Linked DNA regions of Homo sapiens: region 2 is linked to region 1. The links come from fine-mapping of genetic effects on plasma protein levels. A gene starts in region 1. The other region holds a variant in brackets. All regions are shown on one strand. Distances are from middle to middle.

What was found. PIP is the posterior inclusion probability: the model's chance that the variant is causal. Protein levels are from antibody-based Olink assays in UK Biobank. Linkage for the fine-mapping came from a reference panel and not from the study's own genotypes, which makes the PIPs less certain.
Region 2: its variant is fine-mapped to the plasma level of the CCL21 protein (UK Biobank, PIP above 0.99).

The regions. Positions count from the first base shown.
Region 1 is chr9:34,706,408-34,714,954 of GRCh38, reverse strand. It overlaps CCL21 (C-C motif chemokine ligand 21), which reads left to right and starts at 4,819. Exons shown (of 4, transcript NM_002989.4): 1 at 4,819-4,955; 2 at 5,058-5,178; 3 at 5,273-5,455; 4 at 5,528-5,950. The coding sequence starts at 4,889. The coding sequence ends at 5,561. It also overlaps a transcript of PHF24 not described here.
Region 2 is chr9:34,719,665-34,728,211 of GRCh38, reverse strand. SPATA31F1 (SPATA31 subfamily F member 1) reads left to right here. Exons shown (of 4, transcript NM_001141917.2): 3 at 130-190; 4 at 1,224-5,159. The coding sequence ends at 4,980. It also overlaps a transcript of PHF24 not described here. Among named protein-coding and RNA genes, the nearest start is that of SPATA31F1, 5.6 kb to the left of the region's middle. The variant G/T (reference allele first, on the strand shown) is at 5,174.

The sequences.
Region 1 (8,547 bases):
ATCTAGGAAGACCAGGCAGAGATGGGACCTAGGGGGTTGTGCACACCATCTGACACAACAAGAAGCTTCTTTCATGGCATGAATAAGGGTAAGGGAGACAGGCAGGTATCTTGGAGAGAAAGCAAGCCTAAGCTTTTAGGAAAGAAAAAGGTACAGCCCCCTCCTCTTCCCTGCCATCTCTCCTTTTTTTCTACAATCTGTGCCAGGCGAGAAAGTCTCCTCCTCCAGGGGAGGTAGAGGGGGCATCACTCCAGCTTTCCTTTCCCCAGACCAACTTTGTTCCCTTTCACCGGCTCTGTGTCAATCTAGAGTGTGGGATGGGGAGCAGAATAGGCCCAAGTGGCTCTCCCAGCCCCACCCCACCAAATGCTTAGAATTACCTGCAGAACTTGGTAAAAATACACATTTGTTGGCTCTATTCTGAGATTCTATTTAAGGCGGTCTGGCGTGTTGCTTCTAATTCTGTTTTTAAAAAGTCACCCAGGTGATTCTGAAGTGCAGCCAAGTTTGGAAGCAAACTAATATAATATGACTTCGGAATTATCTGCATGCCCCCTCCCAAGCCCATGCTATTCTATCTGTCTGAGAATTCCTCAGAGACAGGCTGCTCACTACTTTCTTAGTCACTCCCATTAGGCAGGTGGGGAAACCAGGGAGCTGGGAATTTAAAACTTTCTGGTTCCAGGATCTGCCTCTAGACCAGGTAAAAGATCCAAGAAATCTTATCTCCTTGTTTTTGCCTAGTCTTGTTCCAGGAACACCAGCTTCTTGCCAACAGAGTCACTCCCTGCCCTGCTTAAGGTCTCAGCCTTAAGGTCTCTTGAGTCTGAAAACCTCAGACTCAAGAGCTCAATTATTTCTCCTCTAGGCCACCAAATTCCAGCCCCTCTACTCTGTGGACCTTAGAATGAAACACCACCTCTTTATCCCCCTCCCAACAGTACCTCCATCTTCAACCCCATGCCTTCTGCATCCCATCCTTCCCCAAGAGCAACCCAATATTTCTGTCTCTGGCCATGGCTGTCCTGACTACATCTCTCCTGACACTCATTTCCTCCTCTTCCTATGGTTTCCCTATCCTGTCATAAGCCATCCTTCAAAAAACAAGATGTAAGGAGCTTGCTGCTGAGTTTAGCACTCTGGAAACCAGATGGATTCTCCAGCTCTGACGTGAGGATTACAACTCTAAGGTCCCAATCCAGTATTAAATATAGATTCTAAGTTATGACCCAATAACCCTCACACATCATATACCATAATAAACTCCAAATGGATAAAAGATTTTAAAATGTTAAAAATTAAACTACAGAAAAACATCATACAAAATGGCAGAGTAAGAAGTTATAGGGGTTGGTCCCTCCACCAAAGCAACTATTGAGGTGGAAAGAGCAATTGGAATCGACTCTTTCAGAAGTCTGGAGCCCGATTGGACACTTATAACAAGCAGGGGGGGTGGTACTTGATGAAGGGAGAGGTTGCTGGTCTTTCAGAAGAGAGCATAATGCATGCACTAGCTACCAACCAACACAGTGGGGATAGCAGCCCACATTCCTGAAGTAGCTGGGTGGTCACTGAGTGGGCAGGGGGAACCCTGTCCTCCAAAAATGAGGGGTTTTGCATTTGGGTTTGTCTTCTGGTTCCCTAAGGGACAGGCTTGCTTTGTTTCAGCCCTCTTGGGCTTCAGGATCTTCCTGAGCCACATATATCAGAAGATTTAAAGGGACAGAATCTTTTTGCGGGGAAGGAAGAGAACCCTTTGTCAGGTCATAAACAGAAATTTCAGTAACCCCACAAAACAAAGAATACACACTTTGCAAAAAACCGTTTGAAAAAGTCACCACAAATTGATGGCAGAGTTCTCAACAAGTGTATATCAGCAATCCCTAAGGAGTGAAAAAATTGAATTTCTAGAGATACCACACTGTAATATTCAGAATGCCCAGTTATCAACAAAAAATTACTAATACAAAGAAATAGGAAAGTATGGCCCATTCACAGGAAGAAAGGAATTTGACAGAGACTATCCCTGAGGAAGCCCAGATATTGGACATAGTAGATGAAGACTTTAACTGTCTTACTGTAAATGCTCAATAAATATTGATGATGGGAGGTTTGATGATAAGGGTGAGAAGCTGAAATCTCAAATACTGCTTTGTTGCTTGTTTTATTATGACCTCAAATTAAATTGGGAAACAATGGCCCTTTTGGAAAAAAAAAATAACTGTCTTAAATATGCTCAAAGAGCTGAAGGAAACCATGGGCAAAGAGTTAAGGGAAATCTGAAAAATGGTGTATGAACAAAATGAAACTATCAATAAAGAGATGGAAATTAGTAAAAAGAAAAAAAGGACTCAAGCAGAAATTCTGGAAGCAAAAATACAATAACTGAAATGTACAATTCACTAGGGGCAATCAACAACTAATTTAAGCAGAAAAAAAAGGATCAGTATTCTTGATGATAAGACAATTAAAATTATCAAGTATGAGAAGAAAAATAAACGAGCCTCAGGGATACCATCAAATGTACCTCATCACAGGAGTCTCAGGAGGAGAAGAGAGGGAACAGGGCATTAAAAAAATTGAAGAAATAATGACAAAACATCTGAAATCTGATGAAAAGCATGAATATACATACCCAAGAAGTTCACAAACTCTAAGAAGGATAAACTCAGAGATCCACACCAAGACAAATTATAGTCAAATTGTTGAAACCCAAAGATTTTAAAAGCAGCAAGAGAGAAGTAACTCATTATGTACAAGAGATTCTCAATAAGATTACCAGCTGATTTCAGAAACCATGGGAGGCCAAAAGACAATGGGGGATATATTTAAAGACTGAAGAAAAAAAAAAGTCAAACAAGAATTCTATATATCCAGCAAAACTATGCTGCAAGAATTAAGGAGAAATAAGACATTTCCAGATAAACAAAACTTAGGAAGTTCATTAATAGTAGACCTGCCCACAAGAAAAGCTAACGGGAGAAAGAAAAAACAAACAAACAAACAAACAAATGCTAAAGGAAGACCTTCAGAATGAAACAAAAGGACAAAAAATAATAACTCACAGCCACACAAAGAAACAAAGATCTCTGATAAACATAACAACATAGCAGGCTGGGCGCAGTGGCTCATGTCTGTAATCCCAGCACTTTGGGAGGCCAAGGTGAGCGGATCATTTGAGGTCAGGAGTTTGAGACCAACCAGGCCAACATGGTGAAACCCCATCTCTACAAAAAATAGAAAAATTAGCTGGATGTGGTGACAGGTGCCCATAATCCCAGTTACTCGGGAGGCTGAGGCAGGAGAATGGCTTGAACCCGGAGGGTGGAGGTTGCAGTGAGCCAAGATCACGCCACTGCACTCCAGCCTGGGCGAAAGAGTGAGACTCTGTCTCAAAAAAAAAAAAAAAAAAGTAACAACATTGCCAGGTATGCTGGTTCACACTTGTAATCCCATTACTTTGGGAGGCCAAGGCGGGTGAATTGCTTGAGGTCAGGCGTTCGAGACTAGCCTGGGCAACATAGTGAGACCTCGTGTCTACAAAAAATACAAAAATTAGCCAGGCATGGTGGCCCCACTACTCAGGAGACTGAGGTGGAAGGATCACTTGAGCCCAGGAGGTCGAGGCTGCTGTGAGCTGAGATTGTGCCACCGCACTCCAGCCTGGGTGACAAAGCGAGACCCTGTGTCAAAAAAAAAAAAAAAGATAAAAGCTAGTATTGTATTTTTAGTTTGTAGCCCCACTTTTTTCTATATAATTTAAAAGGAAAATGCATTAAACAATAATTATAAATCTATGTCAATGGGAACACAATGTATAAAGATGTAATCTGTGACAATAACAATATAAAGAAGGGACTAAAATGTATACGAGCAAAATGTTTATATACCATTGAAACTAAGTTGGTATTATTCAAACTAGGTTGTTATCAGTTTAGAATGTTAATTATAATCACCAAGGTATCCATTAGGAAAATAACTACAAAATATATAGAAAAGGAAAGCAAAGGGGAATCAAAATGGTTATGCTACAGACCAGGTGCAGTCGCTCATACCTATAATTCCAGCACTTTGGGTGGCCAAGGCAGGAGGATCGCTTGAGCCCAGGAGTTCAAGACCAGACTGGGCAACATAGCAAGACCTCATCTCTAGAAAAAATAAAAATGAAAAATGAAAACAGTAGCCGGACGTAGTGGCATGTGCCTGTGGTCCCAGCTCCTCAAGAGGCTGAGGCAGGCAGATCATTTGAGCCCAGGAGCTCAAGACTAGCCTGGGCTAGACATCGTGAAACCTCGTCTCTACAAAAAAAAAATAGAAAAATCAGCCAGGCGCAGTGGTGCTTGCCTGTAGTCCCAGCTCCTGGGGAGGTTGAGGTAGGAGGATCACTCGAGCCCAGGAGGCGGAGATTTCAGTGAGCCAAGATCAACCACTGCACTCCAGCCTGGGTGACAGAGTTAGACCCTGTCTCAAAAAAAAAAAAAAAAAAAAGAACTCTTACAATTTAATAATCAGATTTGCTGGAAGGAGGGGAAGGGTATGGATCCTGGAGCGTAGTGAGGAGACAGTCATGGTGTTCCAGGGGAGAGGCAGTGAGGCCTGCATGAAAGCAGTAGCTGGGAATAGAAGGAAGGCTCAGGCCCAGACATATTCAACTAATGAGGACATAAAATTTGGCAGCTGAGGACTGTCCACTTAGTTTGAGATAAGTGGGGCTGGGTGCCAGCAAATCCAGCTTTCAGGAAGGAAAAGGAGTGGGGATAAGTTAAGGGAAGTGAAAGTGTCTAGCTACATAAATAGCAGGCCAATCCCAGCCCACGCACAGACCCCCAACTTGCAGCTGCCCACCTCACCCTCAGCTCTGGCCTCTTACTCACCCTCTACCACAGACATGGCTCAGTCACTGGCTCTGAGCCTCCTTATCCTGGTTCTGGCCTTTGGCATCCCCAGGACCCAAGGTACCAAGGCAGGGAGGGGCCTTGCATGGGGCTAAGGGGATCAAGAGGCCTGGATAGGAGCTTGCCAGCAGCCCCTGGCTCCCTGTGAATCCCACCCTGCAGGCAGTGATGGAGGGGCTCAGGACTGTTGCCTCAAGTACAGCCAAAGGAAGATTCCCGCCAAGGTTGTCCGCAGCTACCGGAAGCAGGAACCAAGCTTAGGCTGCTCCATCCCAGCTATCCTGTGAGTGGACACAAAGGGGTGGGTACTGGCTGGTGACGGGGTGGGGAGGGCATGGTGGGCAAGACTAAGAAGGCTTACTAGCCCCCACCCGCAGGTTCTTGCCCCGCAAGCGCTCTCAGGCAGAGCTATGTGCAGACCCAAAGGAGCTCTGGGTGCAGCAGCTGATGCAGCATCTGGACAAGACACCATCCCCACAGAAACCAGCCCAGGGCTGCAGGAAGGACAGGGGGGCCTCCAAGACTGGCAAGAAAGGAAAGGGCTCCAAAGGCTGCAAGAGGTGAGGAATCTGAGGGATGTGGGTAAAGGGGAGCCTCAGTCAGCCCCTCACACCCCTCTTCTGCCCTCACAGGACTGAGCGGTCACAGACCCCTAAAGGGCCATAGCCCAGTGAGCAGCCTGGAGCCCTGGAGACCCCACCAGCCTCACCAGCGCTTGAAGCCTGAACCCAAGATGCAAGAAGGAGGCTATGCTCAGGGGCCCTGGAGCAGCCACCCCATGCTGGCCTTGCCACACTCTTTCTCCTGCTTTAACCACCCCATCTGCATTCCCAGCTCTACCCTGCATGGCTGAGCTGCCCACAGCAGGCCAGGTCCAGAGAGACCGAGGAGGGAGAGTCTCCCAGGGAGCATGAGAGGAGGCAGCAGGACTGTCCCCTTGAAGGAGAATCATCAGGACCCTGGACCTGATACGGCTCCCCAGTACACCCCACCTCTTCCTTGTAAATATGATTTATACCTAACTGAATAAAAAGCTGTTCTGTCTTCCCACCCAAGTACCTGTTCCCATGTGTTTATGTCCACCGAGATGCCAAGGTTCCTACAGGGTGGGGTCACACACTCTGAGCCGAAAGCTCAGGCTGAAAAATGCTATGTTCTCATCTACCCCAAGAGTTTCCTTGCCTCTCAGGTGCCTGCACCCCTGAGCAGTTAAAGGGAGGCTGAAGGACAGGGTAGGACCCAGTCTTCTGAGGCATCCTGCCAATGGAGAGGTGGTGGACATGGAGCACACACCCCCAACAGCTCTGCAGACCTCTGAGACCCTGATTCTGTCCTGCACTAACTCCAGGGGTGACCTTCGGATCTTTTCCATGACCTTCAGACCTTTCCCCAGATATCCCAGAGGCTTCCTCTCTTTTCCCTGGGAACTATTCAATGAGACCCTCCAAGTGGTTCTTTGGAAGGGTCCCTAGGAGGGAAGCTGTGGCTTGGGCCCATCTATAACACAGACAAACACAAGTTATATTGAAACCTGCCCTAGCACAGTTCCAGCCCTGAGAGAGCCCCTGGGAGGCAAAGACCCGAGGGGACTTGCTTCAGCCCTATTCAGTGAAGCTCGGGCCTTGACCTCTCCTCTTTGTTTAATGGGGCTGTTGTGCTCTCCTTCTATTCCTATCTGGGCCCCTGGACTCACTCAGCCTCCTTCCAGATGGAAAAACCTCCTCCCTTTTTTTTTCCTCCTTTCTTTCCTGGCTGGGATCCAGACTACTTTAGCCCATTTAACCCTTTGAAGTCAAGGAATAAGTCTCCTGGGGCAGGTTTTCAGAACCCCAGGATTCAGGTGTGAATCAGTCTCCTCTCCTGGAAGGCCTCAGATGGCTCTCCTCTACCTCTTCCTCCCCAGAGTGAAGACCCTTCTATTCCCCAAATCACCTCCAGGCGGGGAGAGTAGAAGCCATCAGATTGGGCCAGACAATGTGAGAAAGAAGGGAACAGATCCTGGGGAAGGGCAAGAAAGGTAGGAACCTCAAGGCCGGGCGCGGTGGCTCAGGCCTGTAATCCCAGCACTTTGGGAGGCCAAGGCAGGCGGATCATGAGGTCAGGAGTTCCTGACCAGCCTGGCCAACATGGTGAAACCCCGTCTCTACTAAAAATACAAAAATTAGCCGGGCATTGTGGCGGGCGCCTGTAATCCCAGCTACTCGGGAGGCTGAGGAAGGAGAATCACTTGAACCCAGGAGGCGGAGGTTGCAGTGAGGTGAGATCGATTGTGCCATTGCACTCCAGTCTGGGCGACAAGAGCAAGACTCCATTTCAGGAAAAGAAAAAAAAAGGAGGAGAAGAAGAAGAAGAAAGGTAGGAACCTCAGAAGCTAGAAGTGGCTGCTCCATCAACTTTTCCTTCTGTAGGAGCCTGAGTATGCCACAGCACTTACCACCTATCCTAACATCCTCAAGTATTGGCTTGTCTGCTCCTCTTGCAGCAGGTGAAGACAGGGCCTCTCCCCTGCCTGTCCTAGGGCAGCAGGTGTGAAATTAATCTATAAACTCAGATATGCAAGAAATACTACTTTTGAAATGTTCCTTAAATGAACTTAATTCCTACTCCAAGCTACTGCACTAGAGTGCTGATGAGAAATTCAACATCAGGCACTCTTGTGGGATCCCACCTGCCAAGGGTTATGCAAAGGTCACAGAAACCTCAAGGCCCAAGGGAGGCCTCCTACCTGCCTCCTACACCATCCTATCATTGGACATCAGTCTCGCCAGTGAGTGTTCTGACCCCTGTGGTTCCAGCAGGTATATCTCTTCAAGTCCTAGACTCCACATTTGAGACATAAGAATTCAGATATGACAGCCTCTGGGCTTGGACTTGACCTCCCCAGATACCCCCGAAGCCATCTACTCAACAGTCCTGTCACTTGCCCCATCACAGACAGAAATTAGAGCCCAGTGCCCACTCTGGCTGGATGTACACACTAATCCCTTCGCAGTCCTAAACAATTGTCTCCCTCTCCTCAGCCCCTCCAGGGCATAACCTCTTCCCCAAGTTTACAAGTTTACTTTTTTTTTTTTTTAAGGCTTGCTTTGTAGTCCAGGCTGGAGTGCAAAGGTAGGATCATAGCTCACTGTAACCTCAAACTCCTGGGCTCAAGGGATCCTCCTGCCTCAGGCTCCAAGTTGCTGGGATTACAGGTGTGAGCCTCTATGCCCGGCATTTTCCCCTGGTGTAAGACATTTACAAAAGGCCTTTGACGTCAGGCTCCCTTTGACATCAGGACATCACTCCCAGCCCTGCCAAAACTCTTGCCTACTCTATAGTGAAAAGAAAAACATAGGCAGAAAAAACAAAACTCTCTATTTCACTAAATTCTCCTGCCACACCTGCATGCCTGGTATTTGCCTCAAGCCCTGCTCTGAGTAAGCATGCAATATATTATTTATTCCATCAGATCATGACTGGCCACTCTCCTTGTCTGCCTTCATCTTTGACAACATTGTCCTGTTCTTTCTCTTTTCTCTCTTATTCTCTTGATGCATAATTCAAAAAATATCACATAATACACACTCACAGTTAAAAAATATATCCAAAAGTACCAAAAGGTTTATTCTGAATAACATAATTTCCTACAACTTTAACTCCTATGCTATTT
Region 2 (8,547 bases), 13 kb before region 1:
CCTTAGAGTACGGACTTTTCAGGATTGTAGTCTTTTCTTGATGAGAGTCAAAGGCCTTACTATTCAGCTTCCTATAGGATGCCTATGAAATTATCCCATGCCATATAACACTGTCTCCCCGTTCCTCAGCTAGGAGACGTTCCCGGGAAGAAGCTGAGAAGCCACAGAAGCTGCTCTCCATCATTAAAAGGTGATCTATTGCTCTTTGCACTCTATCAACAACCAGCCTGGCCTATGATGATTTCTTGGCTTGGCCTGGGGCAGGACTAAGGAGAAAGATAATGGCTGGGAGGGAGACATACACAGTGGAAGCAGGGACACTGGGTGAGAGGGTTGCCAGGGAAGAGTGGGGTTCACATGTCTCAGGAGAGATGAGCTGCCCAGTTCAGTTCTGTGCTAGGGTAACAGCAGTTCTACAATTCAGGATTTTACTAGTGTATAATTCATAAAACATATTACATGGAGCTGCACTCAGCCATGAGATAAGTTACCCAGTTAAGAGAATGGGTTTTGAATAAAGAAGTCATCCTTGTCTTATTCTCTTTATACTCTTTCAAGGGAATAAAGCTATACCCTTTCAAGGGAAAATACCTGACTCTGGCTAGACTCTGCTGACATGACCTCCTCCGGTTCTGTCTTCAGTGAGGCCAGTACTTGGGACACTCCTTAGACAGGAGTCTATTATATTATCCTCTCCTTAAGAGCTCTAGAGAACAGGACTGGTTCCGAAGAGATGCTGGGTATAACATTACGGGTACCAAATACCCCAGAATGCAGAAGTCCCACAAGGACCTCATTTTCTACAGCTTGGAAGTACTGAATACAGGCTTTGGATTTCTTAGCCTCAAATAAGACTGGTCTGGGTTCTAACTGGTGATGTTCCTGGTGATGCCCCATCAGCTAACTGCCTAGCTCCATTCTCCTAGTTCAGCTTTTCAACAAGGTCAACAGAGAACTGACTCCAACTCCCAGCCCTCTCTGAGGGCCATGCCCTCCCATGGGTTGTCTGAGGCCTTGCCCAACAAGCTCCAGACCATCAGCCCAGCCCACCACACCTTGCCAAATGGCATTTTCTTAGCAAGGAAAGCAGACAGGTAGACAACAAGATGGTATAGGCCCCAGGGTTTTCAGGACTGGGAAAGGAGAGTGCCCACTCCAGCCCACACTCTTCCAAGAAGGCAGATGTCACTCCATCGTTAATTTTGCCGTGTTTCCCTTCCTAGCCAGGGCTGGCTTCCTCTGGAGAGAAGTGTGCGGCGAATCCTGTGTGCAGATCCCTGCTGCCAAATCTGCAATTCTGTGGCTCTGGAGATTCAGCAATTGCTGGTGGGTGAGAACAACCAGATCTCCCTGACTTTATCGGGGCCATTGCAGGGCTCCTCTTGCCTAGAGATGCTGTCTACGTCTAGTATGTCTTTAGATCAGAGTCTGGAGTTTCATTCCTGGCACACCAGAGAGCTTTCACTGTCATCTGTAACCCCAACACTGTCACAATTAACAGATCAGAAATCTTTAACCCAGTCAGCTGCCCAGTCAACGTATGCAGATGGCATACAAGATTACTGGGCTGATCACCTCCAGCTAGGGCAGGAATTTCAAGTGCCAGATGTGCTCCGGGGCCCAAACACCATAGCTTCTTCAAGGATTGAGAAGCCAAGGGCTCCACTGAACCAGGAGGAGATGACGCAGAGCAACCCCAGCCTTGTCCAGGGAAACCAAGGCCAGCATCACTTGAATTCCCAGGTCTCCTTGCTGTCCCTGAACCCAGAAACCCTGAACCGGATGCATCCAATGGCCTTGCATATGGTCCTCCCTGCCCACCTGCCATTTCTCAGTCCTGAAGTGCTGAGGCTTCTTGAGGTACATGTTAAAAAATGGATGCATTTCCAGAGGTGGGGGCTCCCAAGACGTGTGGAGGAGTCCCTGAGGCAGCTTATGCCAAACCCACCATTGTATTACCAACCTGGAAATGACCAGCCAGTTTCTTTCAACCTGAAGAATACTCCTCAGGTCTCTCTTCATAGATTTGAGACCATTTCCCTCCAGACCTGGTGTTCATGTGTGGCTGGCCAGCCCATCCAGACCTTCTGGGTTTCTGAATGGTCCACAATGAACCCAGAACAAAGACACCACTGTCAGCAAACTCCAAACCCTATGGCTCTAGCCTTGCCCTCTCCAGCCCTTAAAGCCCTAAGTGGCCCCCATCCACAGTCTGGGGGACAAGATAATGACTCAGGGAGTGATCTCCAGCAGAAATACAGCCAGCTATTCTGTGGGCTCCCTTCTCTGCACAGTGAGTCCCTGGTTGCCACTTTCATGGGATCTCAAGGCCTCCCCAAGATTGAAAATGTGCCCAAGCCCCCCTTGAAGGATCCTTTTCTCTTCAATGAGCTCTCCTTCCCCCAACTGCTCCCTAAAACTTCACCCCAGTCAGCCCCACCCTCTTCCCCACTTTCCCCAAACTGGATGTCTCCATCTGACCATCAACGAGCTCAGATCAATGTCCCATTTCTGACTCTGGCTGAGTATGAAGCCTTGGAGTGGCACCTGCTACAGAGGCAACTCCAGCTTCAGTGGGGCTGGCCAGCTGCCCTCCAGAGGTCTCAGCACACCCAGTGCCTCATGCAGCATGAGCCCTGTGGCAAAGCTCAGTCTCCTGAGACCACGACAGCTTCCCAGACAGGGAAGTCCATCTCAGTGCTCACCAGGGAACTACTCTTCTTCCCGGAGCATGCCCGGAAGCTGCTGGAATTCCACATCCAGAAACAGTTGATTCGCCATCGCTGGGGCCTGCCTCAGAAGATCCAGCAGTCCATCCAGTTGCTCCTTACCTCCACTGATCAGCAGACTGTGTCCAGCAGCAGCACAGCCCTAGCCAACGTGAGCATCCCCCAGCCTGTAGCCCTAGAGGCCAACGGGGCTTGCGATGTGCTGTCACCCATTGCGGCCCCAGTGTCCATCCCCAGGCCACACTTGTTAACTCAGGTCAAGGCAATACTGCAGAGCCACATCGACTCCAAATGTGGACAAATCCACCAGGGCAAGATCCCCGCCTGTGTACACAGGTCCTGGGACTGCAGAATTTCTGGGGTCCTGGCAGTGGCTCCTTTTCCCTGCATTCCAGAAAGCCAGTTCCTGGAACTGCAGACAGCAAGTGACCCGGACCTGCATCACAAAGTTATGCCCTGGATGCCAACGGCCCTTGATCAGCAGCAACAGGCTTTACCAGGTACTGTCACTGAACACCCTAAGCTGCTCCGAGTCTTGTCTGTGGAAGCCATTGAGAAACTGGAGACAACTTTACGGCACAAGCATCTGGCCTTCCTGTCGGGGCTGCCTGCTCTGTATTATGTGGCGCTCCCCAGGGCCCTGGCCCCGGCAGTCACTAGCCAATCTGTCATCACAGAGATGGAGCCTAGTCCCGTGGAAATCCCAGCAGAGCCTCTGATTCAGATGGTTTCATTTGAAGAACAGTGTATAAGTCTTGGGCCATGCCCTCAAGGCAACAATGAGAGTTGTACAGACGTTGCAAAAGAGTTCCAGCCTGCAGTGCCAGTAAAAGGAACAATGGAGACGCTGCCTCTAGAAAGCCAGACGCATCCTACTAGCCCCCACTCACTCCAGACACATATCTTGACCAAACTAAACTTCCACCTGAGAAAAAAGGTCCTAGAGATACAATGGGGAATTCCCATTAGGGCAAGGAAGTCCAGGGAACAAACTGTTGCAGCACCAGAGAACATATCCACACAGAAGTCTCTTGAAAGTCTAAACCACCAAGGGGAGACATTGCTCCAGGAACTGCCCATCCCACCAGACACTCTTCCTGCCCCTAATCCAGAAGGGGTTCACCTTAAAGAACAGCTGGCCAATGACTTGAAGGCAGTGCAGCAGAACCAAAAGCAATCCAATTCCAAAGCTGTACCCCAGGGTTCTGCCCACTCGGTCTCCAAGATCTCACAGCCCAGTGGGGACATGACAGAGGCCCACATGCCTTGTGTTCAGGTAGAGGCCAATGTGAACAAACCCAGCCTGGAGGAACCCTGTGGCCCTGAGCCTCAAAGCCCTAGCAAGAGCAAGGACCCAGCCCATGTCCCCATGCTAGCAGGAAACAGAGAGGACCCAGAGGAAACCAAAGCAGCCAGGGACCACAGAGAAGGGGATGCGGGGTTTGGGCGCTCCTCAACCAGAGAAGAGAGACGCCCTGCTGAAGACCAGAGGCCAGCAGGGATGCTTCCAAACAAGACACCCCGAGGGTCCTGGCGATGGAGCCGTAGCTTTCATCTTGCTGATCCCTGTCAACACAGCCCCCAGCATCACCCTCAGCTTAAGCTCCCACAGCTACCTCCACGAGTCCCTGGGGAGAAAGAGTCTGAGAAGGACCTGCAAGACAGTCAAACCAAGCTAACTGTCATCCTTGAACCAGCGACAATTCCTGAGAATGCCCAGACTGTGTTGCCCCAGGCTTCACAGGGTCAGCCTTTCCTGAGCCAACCAACTCAGGCTAAGCCTTTGCAGGGCCAAACTTTGCAAGGCCAAGTTTTGCATGGGCTGGTGATGCCAGTCCATGCTCAAAAGAAGCCCAGCCTTACAGAGTCTAGCTTCAGAAATAAAATTAAATGTTTTCTGCAGCATATTAACCCCAAGACAAAAGGCAAAGGGCATGAGGACTCCATGTTCTCAGCCGCTGCGAAGGTGGCCAAAACCAGAAAAGAAAATGTTGCAAAGAGCCTGGCTCCAGCCAAGAGCCCTGTGGGGAGAAGTAAGACGGAGAAGCCGACAGGGTGCTCCAAGGCCCAATCTCGTCCTGCTCAGAAGCTGGTGGGCCCAGCCTTCTTGGATGGTCCCCAATCCCTAGACGATAAGCTCCGGCTACACTCCAGACAACCTGGCTCTGCCTCAGCCCTGGGCTACCCCCGCCACTGCCCTCGTCACTGTCCTCGAGAGGCTTGTGCCAACAAACCAGGGCACCCAACCTAGCTCCTGACCCTCACCTCAGATAGAAACATTGGTCCGCTCAAGGAGAACATGCAGAGCCATGAAAAAGAGTTTATAGGCTCCCCAACTGCTGCAGCCCTCCAGAGGACCAGTATTGTCATTTCCATAAATGTGCAGGTGGGACAGATGCCACTAGAAATACACTCTATATTTCTCAGCAATACATTGTCTGTCT[G/T]CTCCTTGTCTCTGCTGTATTGTGTTAAGGGAAGGTGTGAGGGAGGCTAAAAAGTCCTTCCTGTCTAGGGAAGGAGCTTTAACTTACCTTTCAGATGGGTCACCATTCCACATCAAAGAAGAAAAGCTTTTATCTAGAGTGCACTGAAGTTAAAGGTCATGCTTGATTTCTGAACATTTACCATCCATCCCACCAGAATATTTTCCACTGTCCCATAACTCCAGGGCCTAGGAGAGTGGCTAATGCATAGTAAGACCTTACATTAGTTGAATCCAAAGTCAGGGCTGTGGAGACAGACAAAGCATTGATCATTTTAATGGGGCTATGAGGTGTGTGGTAGTGCCACAGGAGGAAGCAATCAGCTGGTGAGGAGGAACCCATAATAAAAATTACTTTGAGAAGCATCTTGTTTTCAACAATTAAATATCTGAGTGTTTATTACGTGCCAAGAACTATGCAAAACACATCAATGAACATGACACAGGCCTTGACCCAGTGGAGCTCATGATCCCATGGGGTCGACAGTCTATTACTCCCAAATTGTCCAGTCAAATTATAAACTTAGAAGTCCAATATTCATCTCAAACCATACAAAAATAAACGAACTGGTTTTCTACCCTTCACCACCACTCAGTCACACATACCAAACCCACTGTATTCATGATATTTCTCACTTCAGTGAATGGCAGCTCCATCTTTCCAGTTATTTAGGACAAAAACAATGGTGTTATCCTTGATTTTTTTCCTAACCCACAGTAAATCCTGTTCTCTCTACCTTCAAGCATGCATCGAGAAAATGCCCACTTCTCACCCTCTCTACTGCTACCATCACTCCAGTAGCATCATAACTAATCTCCCCATTTCATCCTGAGACTATTCAACCAACAGTTTATCCTCAACACAGAAGCCTGATGGTCCTCAGGGAGGGTCCTGGCTTCAGATAATACAGAGAGAGTGAGAAAGAAAAAACCATGCAACTGGATAACACACCAAACAACTAAGTGTAAATGGAGACATCTAAGGAGTAGGCCCTGAGACTCTTCTATGTTAAGAAACTGGAAAGTAAAGGAGGGACTAGTAAACAGAGGAAACTGACAAGCAGTGGCCAGTGAGATGGAAGGAAAACAAGATGAGTGTGGAATACTAGAAGCCAAACAAAAATGTTTTTCAAGGAGAGATCAACTGCATGAAAAGTTGCCAGTCAGCCAATTAAGATGAGGCGTGTTAGATTTAGCCACACAGAGATCATTGATGACCTTAACAGGAGCAGCCTCAGGTGAATGATGGAGATGAAGGTGTGACTGGAGTGGATTCCAGAGAGAGTGGACGGCTGGGCACAGTGGCTCACACCTGTAATCCTGGCACTTTGGGAGGCCGAGGCAGGTGGATCACCTGAGGTCAAGAGTTCGAGACCAGCCTGGCCAACATGGTGAAACTCTGTCTCTAGTAAAAATACAAAAATTATCTGGGCGTGGTGGTGCGCACCTGTAATCCCAGCTACTCAGGAGGCTGAGGAGAATCACTTGAACCCAGGAGGTGGAGGTTGCAGTGAGCCCAGACTGTGCCATTGCATTCCAGCCTGGGCGACAAGAGCAAAACTCCATCGAGAGAGAGAGAGAGAGAGAGAGAGAGAGAGAGAATGGAAAGACAGCAATTAGTGTTAGAAAGGGTAACATAAACTCCTCAAAGAGGTCTGTTCAAATAAAGATACAGAAATGTGAGGCATTAGAACCCAAAATGGCTTTTCAAAAAAGACTGGAGACATAGCATGGTGGATGTTAATGGAAAACATCCAGTGGAGATGGATAAATTAATGATGCAGGAGCTCAAGGGGAGAACTGCTGGAACAATGTTGTGGTTCAGAAGTGAAGGAATGGGAGCAAGTCCCCAAGTTGACAGTCTGGCTTTGGCTAAAAATACAGAACTTCACTGGTGGTAGAGAGAAGGTAGAGTTAATGAGGGAGGACTTCATGGATTAGAAGAAAGGATTCTTCCACATATAAGGGAGTGTGGGCAAAGACCCAGAGGGATGAGTGAGGACCTGGGAAGGGACCGTGTCTGTGGGAAGGGGGAACCGTATGGAGAACCAAAGCGGGAAAGCTGGAGGTGGAGAAAGATTCTGGAAGTTACCATGGAAAGTTTCTGTTAGGTCCCAAGCAGTTGGTTGTGAGTACATAGGTGGGTGAAAAGGTGATCAAAGCTGCTGCTGATATCTGTGCAGCAGGTGCTCTTGGAACACTGTACCAGCAGGAGAGCTCACAGAGAAAGCTCTAAATGCATGGAGACTGCGCAAGAGCATGAGGCTGGAGATGGAGAAACAGGGCAGAGATGGCATCCTAGTGCTCAGTGAGGTGAGGGACCAGGGAGGTTATATGGGTGGGATGAGAGGATTGGGAAGCAGGAAGACAAAGAAGCTGCCCTGAGAAGATGGAAGGGACATCGATTTTGGACAGCTATTATCCCTCAGGAGGTGGCACCTCTGCATTCCCCTTCTGACCTACCACAGAGGAGCCAAGAGCTGGAAAAAGGGCAGGAAGTGCTGTGACTTCTTTATGACATGTTTTTTGTTTTGTTTTGTTTTTTTTTTGAGACGGAGTCTCGCTCTGTCGCCCAGGCCGGACTGCGGGCTGCAGTGGCGCAATCTCGGCTCACTGCAAGCTCCGCTTCCCGGGTTCACGCCATTCTCCTGCCTCAGCCTCCCGAGTAGCTGGGACTACAGGCGCCCGCCACCGCACCCAGCTAATTTTTTGTATTTTTTAGTAGAGACGGGGTTTCACCTTGTTAGCCAGGATGGTCTCGATCTCCTGACCTCATGATCCACCCGCCTCGGCCTCCCAAAGCGCTGGGATTACAGGCGTGAGCCACCGCGCCTGGCCCTTTATGACATGTTTTGAGGGACAGTGGGATGCCCCTGGTTCCTACGGAAACCCAGGATCACTCACCATCTCATCACTAGGAGGAGGAGGTGGCAGGACTTGCTTCCTCTGATGGGACCCCAGCATTTAGCACAATGTGTCCACTGCTTGGATACAGAAGAGGCAGGATGGGAAGAAACATGGATATGTCCCTGCTCTGAATGCTGATTCTGTGCCTAAGGGATGGGGGCCCAGCCCATACATGGTCCCCAGGGCAGAGAGGCACAAGGCCCAAACCTGCTGAACCAACATTCAACAGATGTTTTCCTAAAGCATTCCCAAAGATCAAAGGAGGTATTGTGACAGGCACATCCTCCCTGCCTGGTGGGAGTGGGGCAGGCAGCCACACAGCTAGAACAGAGGGAGGCCCAGAATGAAGGGAATTGACTCAGGAGGGTCACAGCAGCATCAGGTAGGAAGCCAGGGGTTAGCGTGCATACATCCTGGTTTAGGGTGGAG